Linked DNA regions of Homo sapiens. The protein of the gene in region 2 purifies or fractionates together with the protein of the main gene of each other region. This does not show direct contact. Each region holds a gene or a part of one and is shown on either strand. Other genes may lie near its edges.

The links. Proteins that work in one complex are often made in the same cells at the same time.
Region 1: the proteins of ASB10 (region 2) and THAP12 purify together in Homo sapiens (affinity purification with mass spectrometry; 2 studies listed by BioGRID and IntAct, with this or other methods). This does not show direct contact.

What each region holds. Positions count from the first base shown.
Region 1 is NC_000011.10:76,378,114-76,385,939, forward strand, and holds the start of THAP12 (52 kDa repressor of the inhibitor of the protein kinase), read right to left. Parts: upstream 3,020-7,826; 5' UTR 2,724-3,019; coding exon 2,635-2,723; intron 1-2,634. Other genes in the region: protein GVQW3, read left to right, coding at 3,716-4,097. UniProt on the Homo sapiens protein: Upstream regulator of interferon-induced serine/threonine protein kinase R (PKR). May block the PKR-inhibitory function of DNAJC3, resulting in restoration of kinase activity and suppression of cell growth.
Region 2 is NC_000007.14:151,177,251-151,184,272, forward strand, and holds part of ASB10 (ankyrin repeat and SOCS box protein 10), read right to left. Parts: intron 4,209-7,022; coding exon 3,689-4,208; intron 1-3,688. UniProt on the Homo sapiens protein: May be a substrate-recognition component of a SCF-like ECS (Elongin-Cullin-SOCS-box protein) E3 ubiquitin-protein ligase complex which mediates the ubiquitination and subsequent proteasomal degradation of target proteins.

The DNA.
Region 1 (7,826 bases), on a different chromosome or scaffold from region 2:
GTCATATCTAAGAATGTGGTGCCAGCCAAGCACGGTGGCTTACACCTGTAATCCCAGCACTTTGGGAGGCCAAGGCGGGCAGATCACCTGAGATCAGGAGTTCGAGACCAGCCTGGCCAACATGGCGAAACCCCGTCTTGACTAAAAAAAAATACAAAAATTAGCCAGGCATGGTGGCGGATGCCTGCAATCCCAGCTACCTGGGAGGCTGAGTGAGTAGAATAGTTTGTGAACATCGGTGGCAGAGGTTGCAGTGAGCTGAGACTGTGCCACTGCACTGCAGCCTGGGCAACAGAGTGAGACTCTCAAAAAAAACAAAAAACAAACAAGAATGTGCTGCCAAATCTAAAGTCATGAAGATTTATCTGTATTTTTTTCCTAAAAGTTTAATGACATAGCTCTTATATTTAGGCCTTTGATCTCAATAAAAGTATAGGCCATTTGGAGTTCATTTCTGTATATGGTATGAAGAAAGACATCTATTCTTTTTTTTTTTTCATCTATTCTTTCTTTCTTGAGACGGAGTCTTGTTCTGTCACCCTGACTGGAGTGCAGTGGCACGATCTCGGCTCACTGCAACCTCTGCCTCCTGGGTTCAAGCGATTCTCACGTCTTGGCCTCCTGAGTAGCTGGACAGGCACGCACCACTGGGCTCAGCTAATTTTTGTATTTTTTAATAGAGACAGGGTTTCCCTATGTTGGCCAGGCTGGTCTCGAACTCCTGACCTCAAGTGATCCGCCTGCTTAGGCCTCCCAAAGTGCTGGGATTACAGGTGTGAGCCACCATGCCCGGCCTAGACATCTATTCTTGAATGTCTATCAGGTCTCTCAAACCCAAACTTCTAGTATTCCTCTACCAAACCTGCTCTTCCCAGTCTTCCCTATCTCAGCAAATGCTCACGTTAAAAATCTTGAAGTCGGCTGGGCGCGGTGGCTCAGAGCCTGTTCTAGCACTTTGGGAGACCGACACAGGAGGACTGCTTGAAGCCAGGAGTTCAAGACCAACCTGGCCAACATAGATTTTTAAAATCTTGAAGTCGTCCTTAAGTTCTCTTTTTCTTTTACAATCTACCTCCAAACCATTAGCAAATGATGTTGGCTTCACCTTCAAACCATATCTCAAATTTACCATCTCCTCCTCTATTAATCTGGATTATTACAACAGCCTTTTAACTGGTCTTCCGGCTTTCACCTTTGCCTCCCCACAATCTAATGAGCAGCCACTGATCCTGTTAAAATTTAAGTCTCTGCTCTAAACCCTTCAATGACTTCCTATTTCACTCATAATAAAAACCATAGTGCCTTCCAAGACCTACAAGGTCCTACCTAAAGAATTTGCCCCTACCATACACACACCTTTCTGGTCTCATCTCACCTCTCTCCCAGTCCCTCTCCCTGGACTCCTGGTTGCCCTGTCTTTGCCTTCTTTGGAATGCTGCTGCCCAAGGTATCTCCATGGCTGGCCCCTTCACCTGGTCTTTGCTCAAATTCACCTTCTTAGTGAGGCCTTCTCTAATCACTGTATTTAAAATAGCAATTGTGCGTCCCTTGATACTACTTATTCCCCTACCCTCTAACCTTTGTTTATTTTTCTCCACAGTATTTATCATCATCCGACACACTACGTATTTTACTTGTTTATTCCCCCCCCATTAGAATGTAATCTTCATGAAAGCAAGGACTTCGATTTGTTCATCTGTAACCCCCACTGCTCACAACAATGCCAACACAAGTAGACCTTCAATAATTAATTGAACTAATTAATAAATAACATAAATTATAGTCGCCCGTTGCTGCACCTGTTCCCTTACTGGACTGAGAGCTTTCTGCAAGCAGTGACACCCTTATTCACCCATGAACTCCCAGCACCTAACATTTGCGCTCGGCACATAGTAGGCATTGATTTTAAATGAATGAACCAACAAGACAGGCCTATGAAACATCTCAGCCTTTCAAACACAGTCCCTATGCTATCATTCCCTAAATATGTCAGTGTGTGGGGGTTATCCGAAGGAAGAGGTTCCAATACCAATTTCCACGCCCTCACGCGTACACCCTCTGTTATCCCTACAATACCCAAGCGAGAAAATGAGTAACGGTGACAGCCAGAAAATGAATCCTGAACCGTGCAATGACAAGTCCGAAGGAGAAAGCAGTTGCGATGAGATGAAAGAAGGTAGCGGGACTCAAAACAGAAACACTGTCCCGGGGGTGGTGGCAAGGAGAGGGAAAGGCCCCAGTGGCCACAACCATAGAGTCCTGCTCTCTTTTGACAGCTAAGGAAACTAACGCCCAGAGAGGAAAGCGACTCCCCCGAGGTCACACAGCAAGTGAGCCACGGCGAGAACCCACAGCATCCCGCGTCCGCGCGCCGCCCCAGCTCCCTCGCGTTTGGGGTGGTGTCCTCCGCGCAGAGCCCCCACCAGCGCACGTGCTCCGAGGTCCCCGGACGCCCGCCCGCCCACGGCTCGGGGCCGGCTCCCCATCTCGGTCCAACGCTGGGGTCGACGGCAGTGCGCTGCGCCCGCCTCCTGCGCCCCTCTCAGCCAGCCCGGGAGCCCGCCAGGGGCCGGCGGCTGGCAGCGCTCACCGCGAAGGTGGGCCCGGGCCGCCCGCTCTGCGCCCGCCGCTTACCTGGCAGGGTCCCGCGGGAACCTGAAGAAGGCCAAGTCGGACTGCGTGCTCTTCCGCGTGCAGTTGGGGGCAGCGCAGAAGTTCGGCATCGTCGCCCGCCCGCCGGCCGGCCCAGCCCTCCCCTCCCCGCCTCCTCAGGGCAGTCCGCCCGCCCGTCGGGGCCGGGGAGGGGAGCCAGGCCGGCCGGCCGGCTCGGCAGGGCCGACGCGCGGGGGAGGGGCGGGCGGGCTAGAAGCCGCGAGGGCCAGGAGGGGTGCCGCGGTCCGAGGCCGGGCTGGGGACGCGGCTCCACAGTGCTGTGAGCGGCCGGGAGGATTTACCGCCGCCGCCGCCGCTGGTGCACCTCCCGCCCGCCCGAGACGCTGCCGCCTCCTTCCCACAATGCACCCTGACGCCCGGGGGTGCCCTCTCTTCCCTCAGCCTTCCTCCCCCGCCCCTCCTTTCCGCCTTCTCAGCAGGCGGGCACGCGCAAGGAAGCGCGCCTGCCGGGGTGTGGCGAGGCGGAGGCGGGACCTGGCGCGCGCCGCCGCAGTGCGACTGCGCACAGTCTAATCCGCGGGGAGAGAGAATTGCGCATGCGCGCCTGTCTCCCGGGACGCTAGAGCAGGCGGTTCCTGGGCTGCTCCGGTAGGTTTGGCGTGCGCGGGTTTCTGCAGATCTAGGGCGAGCTTGCACGTTACATCACCGATGCATCTCTTCTTGCTTGCTTAATTTGCCACCACTTAGGCCTTTCTTGCAGAATTCGCCATATACTCCTTAAGGGCCGCGGAATCGGAGCGACCTTGGTGACTGGCAAACTCTCGGCAGATGTGCGTGCACTGGTTTGATGCAGACGTGGTTGTAGGCGATTTAATTTTTCCCAGCTTTGCAGCGACTGTTGGCTTCCCAGAACGGATCTCCCCAGCCTCGACTGGAAGCTGAGGGACAAAAATTCATAAAAGCAATTACTCTTTCCCGGCGAGGCTTCTAGAAGAGCAAGAAGAGCGATATGATTACACCTGCAGCCCTATAAAGATTGATCTGTCCGTCTTTCCCTTACAGTCGTGGCCTGTTAAACGTTCCTGTGTTGTTCAGTGCCAGAATGAGTGACCGCTATTTAGAACAAAGGATTAGTATCAAATTTTGCGTGAAATTGAACAAGTCTGCAAGTGAGACCCACCATCTTTTAAAAGAAGCTTATGGGGATGAAGTCATGTCAAGGGCCAGAGTTTTTGACTGGCACAAAAGGTTTAAAGAAGGACGGGAAGATGTTCGAGATGATGCCCGAAGTGGGCGTCCAGTCACCCACCGAACAGATGACAATATCCAGAAGGTCAAGGACTTGGTTTGTTCAAACAGGCAGTTAACCGTGAGGATGATGGCTGAAGAGTTAAATTTAGACAAAGAAACTGTTAGGCTCATTTTGAAAGAAAACTTGAACATGAGGAAGATTTCTGCAAAAGTTATTTCGGGTGTTTTGAAGGGTGAGCCTAAACCACGAAAACTTGACTTTCGGTCCGATCTTTCAAAGGAAACTAGGAAAAATAGCTCATGTTTGAGGAAAAAGGTAACAGGTTCTGAAACATGGAGTTATCTCCAGGGTGAAGCTGGTGGGGAAATGCCCCTGCCGGTATCCCATCCCAGAGTCCACTACTCTGCCAGTCAGCTTCTGCAGGCGTCATCTTCAACAAGCCTTCCCCCCAGGGTAGCTGAGAATTGGTTCACCCCATGGTGAGAGGAATGTGAGTTAGCTGAACCAGAACTAGGATGCTGCCTCACTGTTAGGCACCTTCTTTGGCTGCTCACGTATTTTTCAGTCTTCACCACTCCTCCCTATGTGCCATGGCCCTCCTCATTACTCTTTGCTGGACTCTTGGACCATTTTCCTTGCTGTTCTCCATAACTTTGAAAAACTTTTGGCTGTTCCCTTCTGGTATTTGCTTGTTCTTGATTTCTTTTGCTCAACAAGTTTGGATTTCTTCTCTGCCCAGACCTTAGCTTGTTGTGGCTGTCCTGTTCCTTTGTTCTCAACCTTCTGCCTCAGAGGATCATGCCAGTGAGAAGAGAGGAACAGGATCTCCTGGAATCTGTATCTCTGTGCCCAGGGAAGCATGCTTTTCTGGGAGGACCCCAAAAGAAGGCTTACAGTTTCAGCCTGCTTTGCAGTCAGGGCCTGAGGTATGGTACAGAAGGTAGTAGCATGCTGGTATTACTGAACAGTGCTGGGCCTAGGGGCTGATCTGGCCCAGATGACTCAGTAGGCACCCTTAGGAATCAGGGGTTGGCCACCAATACTGATCTTCTCACAGGCCTACACCTCACAGAAGAGCTGGGTTTGTTTCATTCTAGTCCTATGCTTTGGACCTCCACTCATTTGGGTATCACCCCTGTTGGAAGAGGAGGATCTGGTGCTAGAAAATATAAACCCGGGGACCCAGGCAAGGCTGTGTTGTGTGGGGAGGAAGACCAGGTGGCTCTCTAGTCCCTGAATTAAGGGAGCCTGCTGCCTATGTGCGGATTCCCACACAGCAGCCTGTTTTTAGTAACTAATGCCTATAGTTTTGAGAACTTGCTGTTTTTAGGACACTGCTGGGCATTGACAATGTGGAGGTTATGAACAAGATCTCCAAGGGCTGATGGGCTTCATGGATGAGATGGTTCTTGAACTGGATCCATGAGGATGGGTGAGACAGGGCTGTGAAATTAGGGAAAGCTTCCGGGGCAGGTGGAACAGCATGAGGCTTCCAACCTGCATCAGTAGAAAATGACACTGGCCAGGTGTGGTGAATCACGCCTGTAATCCCAGCACTTTGGGAGACTGAGGTGGGTGGATCACAAGGTCAAGAGATCGAGACCATCCTGGCCAACATGGTGAAACCCCGTCTCTACTAAAAATACAAAAATTAGCTGGGCGTGGTGGTGCACACCTGTAGTCCCAACTACTCAGGAGGCTGAGGCAGGAGAATCTGTTGAACCCGGAAGGCAGAGGTTGCAGTGAGTGGAGATTGCGCCACTGTACTCCAACCTGGCGACAGAGCTAGACTCTGTCCCAAAAAAAAAAAAAAGGAATTAGAAAATGATGACACTATTGGCTAAAATAACAAAGTTTAAAGAGGAAGATAATGGTGTTGCAGCAGATGAACAATTTGGGATAATTTGCTTTCTCTCCTAAGCCTCCAACTCTATGCCACTTGTTGTTAAATTGCTTCCCCTGAGTCTGTGAATAGGTTTGTAACAACCAATTTGATATCTGATTTTCCATTTGGACCCCGACAAGCAGTTTCTGCAAGTTCAAACTCTGTCTCTTCTCTTCCTGCCTCTGCCAGGATTTATGGAATGGAACTTTTCCCAAGTGGGTTCCAAGTAATACCACATAGACTGGAAACATTCAGGGGGCAGGGGTTTGGTAATAGCATTTCACAGAATTGGCCAGTCTTTGTTTTACTCAAGGATTTTTAGATATAACAGCTCCTCTTAAACAATATTGCTTGATAGTAGAGGCACAACACTCATTCATCACAGTTACTTTTAGTGCTGTTCTTTCACTTTCTCTACTCACCTCCAAAAATTACAAGTTCCTCATTAACACCTGTTTTTGTTTTGTTTTGTTTTTTGAGATGGAGTCTTGCTCTGCTGCCCAGGCTGGAGTGCAGTGGCACGATCTCAGCTCACTACAACCTCCGCCTCCCAGGTTCAAGTGTTTCTCCTGACTCAGCCTCCTGAGTAGCTGGGATTACAGGTGCATGCTGCTACACCCGGCTATTTTTTGTATTTTTAGTAGAGGCGGGGTTTCACCATGTTGGCCAGGCTGGTCTTGAACTTCTGACCTCAGGTGATCCACCCACCTCGGCGTCCCAAAGTGCTGGGATTACAGGCGTGAGCCACCACGCCGGGTCAACACCTGTTAGTTTTGAGACACCTTGAAAGCTAGACGTTGTCCCACAAAGAGAAGATACTGTGTAAGAAAACTCTTAAACCAAACAACAGCTTATAGACCTCCAGCTCCTTAACAGTTTCTAGACATTCCATTTCAGGACAATGAAGTCTTCCTACATCAGATGCGGCTCTAGGTTGCCCACAAGCACTTGGCACCAGGGACACTGCACTTTAGGAACAAAGTCCCCACCACTAGTTCTTGCAGCTTTGTTGCTGAACCTCATAGTAATCCTTGCTAAGGCCTACCCAGTGGTAATTGTTGCAGATTTATATGCTCCTGGTCCCAGGCCAGGATCCCACAACCATACCTACAGGAGTTGTTTCTAACCTGTTATTAAACAGAGGTCCTGAGACAACTTACTTCTGGATTTTATTCCAGTCCTATGAACAGGGCTGGTATGTCCCTGCCAGTGATGCTGGACCAAGACCCATGGTGGAGTGTAGAGTACCAGAAGCTATGTTGGTCCAGACATGGTTTAGACACAGCAACCAGAAGCAGGTAATTAGGAGTGTGAATTCAAATGGTTCCAATTGGCTATAATGAAAAGGACTTATCCAGAGCAAACCATTCACATTTGGCTGCTCAGAATTTCTAAACCCAAGGGTAGAGCATGATCTGGGCATCTCCAAATAGGAAAGTTCTTATATGAGTACTCCTAATGTGTCCACCCACCAAATCTATTTTATTGCTGATGCACGTTTTGCCCTGGCCTGCACCTTGCTGCCTAGGCCTCTTGAGCTCCTGGTCCCGTAGTCTCACACATCCAGCTATGTGTCCGTCACACCCCAGGCTCTTGTCCTTGACTATCTTCAGACACCTCTCAGTTTATTCTTCACAGTTTGCTCTTACTCCTCTCTTTCCTTGTTGCTTTGTTTTCTGGTCCTGGGTCACATCTTCAGTAGCTGCTTTTGGTCACTTTGGTGTGCTGATCCTTGTATTGACCTTTGGGTCATGGTTTTCCACTTAACTTACAACTCTTCTCTGATTTTTTGGATCCTTCTTTCAGCTCCCCGCTTCAGCTGCTGAGTAAGGAAATTGTCTGCTCCAGCCCTGGCCCCAGGTTGCCTTCCTATCTTAAAGAAGCAGGGTGGGGTGACATGGGGGAATTATGTGTTGATTTTGTTTTTTCTAAGGGACATGGGCACCTTAGCCACCCTCAGTTGCACTCCCCAGAGGCACCCAGTGTCACCAGTTTCTCAAGGAGGCAATATGGTTACCTCTAGTAGCAAGAGTCATGAAACTTCTTCAGAGTTATAACATCCAAAGCCCATTCTCC
Region 2 (7,022 bases):
CACTTGACATGTATGAACTCTTCACTGTTGTCCCTGCAAGGGATGGACTGTTAATATCCCATGTTATTATCCCATTTCCTTCATTACAGCCAAGGGAAACTGAGGTACAGAGAAGTTAATTAACTTGCCCAAGTTGTGGTTCCCACAGTCCAGGCCTGGAAGCGTGACCCCTTGCCCTTAACCACACCACCATCCTGCTCTCCTCTCTGCCTCTACAAGGTTCTGGGCTGGGTTTTCTGCTGGCTGGAAGGGGTCCCTGACCTGTGGCTGGAGCTCCTGAGCAGATAAAAAGATCACAGAATCCATCCAATGCCAAGTGAGGGTAGAGACAGCTACAAGAGGGGGCCAGGGAGTGGGGTGGGGCTGGGTGGGGGACTCACAGAGGGAGGACTGGGCTCTGGAGGCAAGGGAACCCCAGAGCCTGGAGGGTATTCAGGGAGAAGGGACAAGGCAACCTGAGGCTGATGGACTGCCTGCAGGAGCAGGAGAGGATTTGGTAGGAGCAGGGGTGGAACCTAGTTGGAGCCAGATATATGCTTTCATTGGTTCATTCAGCAACTATTTATTGAGGGCCTACTATGTGCCAAGCACTTCGAATCCAGCAGTGGGGAAAATAAAGTCCTCGTCATCCAAGAGCTTCTATTTCAGAGGGAAAACATAATAAACACAGAAGTCATCACTCACAGATCTGCTGCTGCAATGAAAAATAAGAAGGAGCCGGGCGTGGCGGCTCATGCCTGTAATCCCAGCGCTTTGGGAGGCCGAGGTGGGTGGATCACTTGAGGTCAGCAGTTTGAGACCAGCCTGGCCAACATGGTGAAACCCTGTCTCTACTAAAAATACAAAAATTAGCCGGGCGGTAGTGGCATGCACCTTTAATCCCAGCTATTTGGGAGGCTAAGGCAAGAGAATCTCTTGAGCCTGGGAGGCAGAGGTTGCAGTGAGCCGGGATCGTGCCACGGCACGTGTGGGCGACAGAATGAGACCCTGTCTCAAAAGAGAAAAAAAAAAGTAGGGTCAGGGGACTGAGCATGGTTGGGGAGGGCACTGTCCTAGACGGAGTGGCCAAGAAAGGTCTCTGAGGTGGTGGTCCAGTGCAGCAAGCGGGCAAGCCACGCAGTGGAGCAGCCTGTGGACAGACCGTCCACGTGGTCAGAAAAGTGGCCTGACAGACACTGGCACTAAGACACCCGCTTGTGCCTGAACTCAGTACCTAAAGCAGATTTGTGCCTCCTCCACTGCACTCCACTCTCGCTGCATCTATGCAGGCGATGGCCACAGAGCCTTTTGAGATCTGAAAACAGCTAAGTATTGTCTTTCAGGCAGCATCTCACACACAACCCACATGTGGCCAAACACAATTGCATCTAGCGGTGGGGGTTTAACAGACTCTGTCTGCAAGGAGAGGAGACCCTTCTGTCTGTCAGACGAGAGTACCAATGAGCAGTGGGAGCAGAAGGCCTGGCCTTCCAGGGGTCCCTGGAGAAAGCATTTTACACACCTGGGGCCTCTGCTTCTAGCCCTGCATCTGAGCAGTGCTCATCAGTCTGTCCCGGGAGGCCTCTTTTCCTCACTCCTCCTCCAAGCTAGGGAAGAGCAGGCTGGTTCTCTCCAACTCTCCTCTCCACCTGCCCCTCAGGCCCGTCTCTGTCCTTCCTGGCCCATGTTGATCCCCACCTCTGCACTGGGCTCAAGTAGCTCGCTGTGTCTGGAATGCCTGCCTCTTCCTCCTCCTTCCCTTCAAAACTGCCCATCCCAGTCCTGCCTCCTCCAGGAAGCCCATGCAGCTACATCAACCTGCTTCACTCCCATGTCCAATGATACCCTCATTGGGATGATGCCAAGCAGCTTACCAAGTGCTTTCTCATACATTACATAACAAGAACAACACTAGCTAACAAGTGTTAAGCACTAGGCTTGATGTGTATTAACTCTTCTCACAGTAACCCTATGAAGAAGGCATAGTATCATATCCCTATGTTACAGATGACAAAACTGAGGCCTAGGGAGATTCAGCGACTTGCCGAAGGCCACACAGGTAGTGTGTCTGGCTCCAGAGCCTACACTCCTAGTCACCACTGAACTCAGAAGTTGCTGGGAGGACTGAGGAACTCCTGTAACAGGAAATACAGCTTAGAGCAGTGCCTGGTGTGTAGTCAAGGCTGTGCTTGCTCCGACTGTTCCCCAGTGCTCTCCTACAGCTTTCCATCCTGTTAGGGAGAGGCTGTATCACATGCAGTGACTTGCCTACACCCATACGAACAAGCATCAAAGTCACATCCTGGATCCAGGTCCCCTGAGCACCAAGTCTAAAGTGGTGGCTCCTAGAGAACCAGCTGGGGCTGGCATTTCATCACAGATGGGCGGTGGAGGCTTCTGTGCAGGGAGGACAGAAACCCCTCAGCTGGCAGGGCTGCAGATCATGGAAAGGGACAAATGGGGTACTTTGCTCTGCCAGCCCCTTTGGTCCCAGAGACAGGCTGAGAGGTGGAGCAGGGCTGTGGGGACCCAGGAAACCCTTTCGCTGCGCCGGGCCCTCCTCCCGCCCCTGCCTGCCAGGGAAATCATTAGCTGTCAGAGCTGCCGTCAGATTACAGGGAATTGCTTGTCTCCTAATTATCTAGTGTTAATAGGAGATTAATTAGTGTTAATTGTTGATTTTCTTGTATTTTCCCAAAGGGGAGACCAATCTGCCGAACTCTTGGGCTGTTTAATTATTTGGTCTTGCTTAGGAATCCAGACAGATGCTTCTAGGTTTGTGAGCAAAGGGGAGAGGCTGGGATAGCAGGGGTGGTCCCAGGACAGGCAAGGCTGGGTGGGACAACACTCTGGGCTGAGCCAGAGGGGAACTGCCTACTCAGAGGGTGGTTTCGGTTCTGAGCCATCTCCTCTGAGAACGGATGTCCCCATCCCAGACCCAGCGCCCTCCATGACATTATCTATGCCCCTCCAGACACGACACAGCATGGGGCAAGGCCCCCTCACAGGGCATCAGTAGCACAGGTCTTCAAGTTGAACCTACTTAGGGGAAATTAAGATAAAGTAGGATATAAATTGAAATTGACAGTGAAAGGCATGTTCACAGGTGCCAGGACAGTGGCAGCTGTTCTGGGGGCTGTGGGTCCTATTAGATTCTCAGAAAGTGGGACCATGTCCATTTACAGACATTCAGGGGACCTTGAGCCTCCTGAAACAGGCTCACCCTCTTCCCTTGGACAGCCTCTCCTGCATCTGTCACTGAACTGATCCCACTGCTAGTGGGAGCTTCCTCAAGTGCTATTTTCATCAGTTTGCTGTGCTGATGAAGACCCTTAAACAACGCCCACCACCCACATCAGCCCTGACTTCTTCTGTCTTTTTGGATCCTTTATCTAATCTGGCCCCACTGCCCCCAGTCCGCCTTTATCACACATGCACAGTATATACATGCACATACATGCATGAACACATGTATACACACGCACACCATGTATACACATGCACACACACATGCACACACACACATTTCCCACTGATCTGTGTCTTCACCTTGACCCCTATTTGGGCTTTGCTTACATGCTGAATGAAAGACAGACAGAAGGAACCAATCTATGTGCACAGGCCACATTCCAAAGCAAACCGGAGCACAGGCCCAGGTCTCCCTGTCCCCTCACCATGGTGGCCCTCCTGCTGCCTGCAGCCCCCATACCTTGGGGAGGGCCCCTGGCCAGACACGGACGGCGCCATGGTTGAGCAGAGCCCGAACCACGTGCTCGGGGCTCTGGGCCAGGGCTGCAGCTGGGCCCTGCAGAGCACAGTGCAGGGGCGTGTGTCCCCCATAGTCCATGGTGTTGGCGCTGACACCACAGGACAGGAGCAGCTCCACGACAGCTGCATGGCCACGGCGGCAGGCCAGGTGCAGGGGTCGCTGCTTGTCCTGGTCCGCAGCATCAGCGTCTGCTCCAGCTGAAAGCAGCAAGCTGCACAGCTGCAGGCAGCGGGCGGTGGTGGCCTCGGCATCGGTGATGGACTGGCAGCGGACGTCACAGGCAGCCAGCAGTGGGGTCCAGCCTTCGGCATTGCGGGCATCAGGACATGCCCCCCGTCTTAGAAGCAGATCTGCCAGCTCCACATGGCCAAGCCGGGCGGCCACATGCAAAGGGGTCTCCTCTTCTTCCTCGGACCGACCATCCACTCTCGCTCCAAACCTGAGGAGCAGCTCCGCACACCTATTGGGGGGAGACGGTGGTGGGGAGGAAAGCGGGCACGGACCCCTGGCAGGAACACACTTGGGTGGCTCTTGGTTCTGTCTCCCCCCACCCACCCTCCATCCTGCCCATCACTGGTCATCCTGGCACCATTCTGCAAGATCAACAGTGCCCTTCTTTTTTTTTTTTTTTTGAGACTGAGTCTTGTTCTACCACCCAGGCGGAAGTGCAGTGGTACAATCTCAGCTCACTGCAACCTCCACCTCCCGGGTTCAAGCGATTCTCCTGCCTCAGCCTCCAGAGTAGCTGGGATTACAGGCTCCCACCACCACGCCCGGCTAGTTTTTTGTGTATTTAGTAGAGATGGGGTTTCACCATGTTTGCCAGGCTGGTCTCAAACTCCTGACCTCAAGTGATCCACCTGCCTCGGCCTCCCAAAGTGCTGGATTATAGGCATGAGCCACTGTGCCTGGCCAACAGTGTCCTTCTTTAAAATCCAAATACTTTTTGTTGGGATAATCCACTAAATCATCCGTGGGAATAAACGTCACCAGCAGTTATCACATGAGTGGTTAGAACAGGCGCCTGCTAAGGGTTTTACGTGTTGTAGCTAATTTCATCCTCACTACATTCCCTTGGTAGGCTCTCTTAAGGCACTCATGCCACAGAGGAGGAAACTGAGGTTTGAGGATCTCATGCAAGTTGACATGGCTAGTAGGGGTAGGGCTGCTATTTGGGTTCAGGGGCAACAGGACTGTTGGGGGATCTGCATGCTGGGACTGGAGGAGGAAGGGGGCGTGGGGCCTGACAGTGGGCACACATGGAAATGGGGCAGTGGGATAAAGAACAAGACTGATTGGCTGGGCATGGTGGCTCATGCCTATAATCCCAGCACTTTGGGAGTCCAAGGCAGGTGGATCACCTGAGGTCAGGAGTTTGAGACCAGCCTGGCAAACACGGTGAACCCCCGTCTCTACTAAAGATACAAAAATTAGCCAGGTGTAGTGGTGGGCCCCTGTAATCCCAGCTACTTGGGAGGCTGAGGCAGGAGAATCGCTTGAACCTGGGAGGTGGAGACTGCAGTGAGCCGAGATCATGCCACTACACTCCAGCTTGGGTGACAGAGTGAGACTCCTTCTCAAAATAGAAAAATAAAAAATAAAAAAGACTGAAATTGGCCAACTGGATTTACTCCAAGATGGCAAGAAGCACAGGGAGTCACAGCAACGTGTGTGCCTCACTTCAGGGCTAACGGGACTTGGCCTCTTTGAGCTCCTGTTCCCTCGTGTGTAGAATGGGGATAATTATAACAGCTCCACCTTCCGAGGTGGTTGTGAGCAGCACGTGAGACGACCCCCAAAAACCTGTCATCGTAAGGGCTCAAAATGACGACACTTGGCAGGGGGAGTGGGAGGTATAGAGGGTGATGGATTGTGGGAGCTCATTTCATTATCCTGTCTGACTTTCTATATCTTTAAAAGTCTCCATAATAATTTTAAAATACATTTGTTTACTCACAAAGGAAGGAAGGATTATCACTGGGTGTGATCTCAGGGAGGCTGGTGGGAACATGGTCAGAACTAAAAATGTGGGATTATGTGGAACCTCACTATCCAGTGGTAGCCACTAGCCACCTGTGGCTATCGAGTTCTTGAAATGTGGCTAATCCTAACTGAGATGCGGTGTGTTATATGCTTGCCTTTTTTTCTTCTTCTTCTTCAGAAACAGAGCTGGCTAGGTGCAGTGGAGAATCACTTTAGCCCAGGAGTTCAAGACTATCCTGGGCAACAAAGTGAGACCCATCTCCACAAAAAATTAGCTGGGAATGGTGGCATGGGCCTGTAGTAGTCCCATCTACTCTGTAGGCTGAGGTGAGAGGATTGTTTGAGCCAAGTAGTTTGAGGCTGCAGTGAGCTATGAACGTACCACTGGACATCCAGACTAGGTGACTGAGAGAGACCCTATCTCTCTCTCTTTTTTTTTCTTTTGAGATAAGGTCTCTCTCTGTCACCCAGGCTGGAATACAGTGGCGTGATCTCCACTCACTGCAACCTCCGCCTCACAGGCTCAAATGATCCTCCTACCTCAGCCTCCTGAGTAGCTGAGATTACAGGTGTGCACCACCATGCCTGGCTAATTTTTGTCTGTTTGCTTGTTTGTTTTTTTGAGACGGAGTTTCCCTCTTTCGCCCAGGCTGGAGTGCAGTGGCACAATCTTGGCTCACTACCACCTCCACCTCCGGGGTTGAAGGGATTCTCCTGCCTCAGCCTCCCGAGTAGCTGGGATTACAGGTGCCCGCCACCATGTCCAGCTAATTTTTGTATTTTTAGTAGAGACAGAGTTTCACCATGTTGGCTAGGCTGGTCTCCAACTCCTGACCTCAGGTGATCCACCCGGCTCGGCCTCCCAAAGTGCTGGGATTACAGGCGTGAGCCACTGCGCCCGGCCTCAATTTTATATTGATTACATGTCAACATGATAACACTTTGGATATGTTGTGTTAAATAAAATATAATTAATTTAACCTGCTTCAAAGATATTTGTACCCACATGTCCACAGGAGGATTACTCCCAATAGCCAAAATGTGGAAGCAACCCAAGTGTCCCTCAACGGGTGAATGAATAAACATTCAATAAAAATGTGCTATACACATATAAAGGAGTGTTATTCAGCCTTAGAAAGGAAGGAAATTCGGCCGGGCGTGGTGGCTCACACCTGTAATCCCAGCACTTTGGGAGGCCGAGGTGGGTGGATCACAAGGTCAGGAGATCGAGACCATCCTGGCTAACACGGTGAAACCCCGTCTCTACTAAAAAATACAAAAAGTAGCCGGG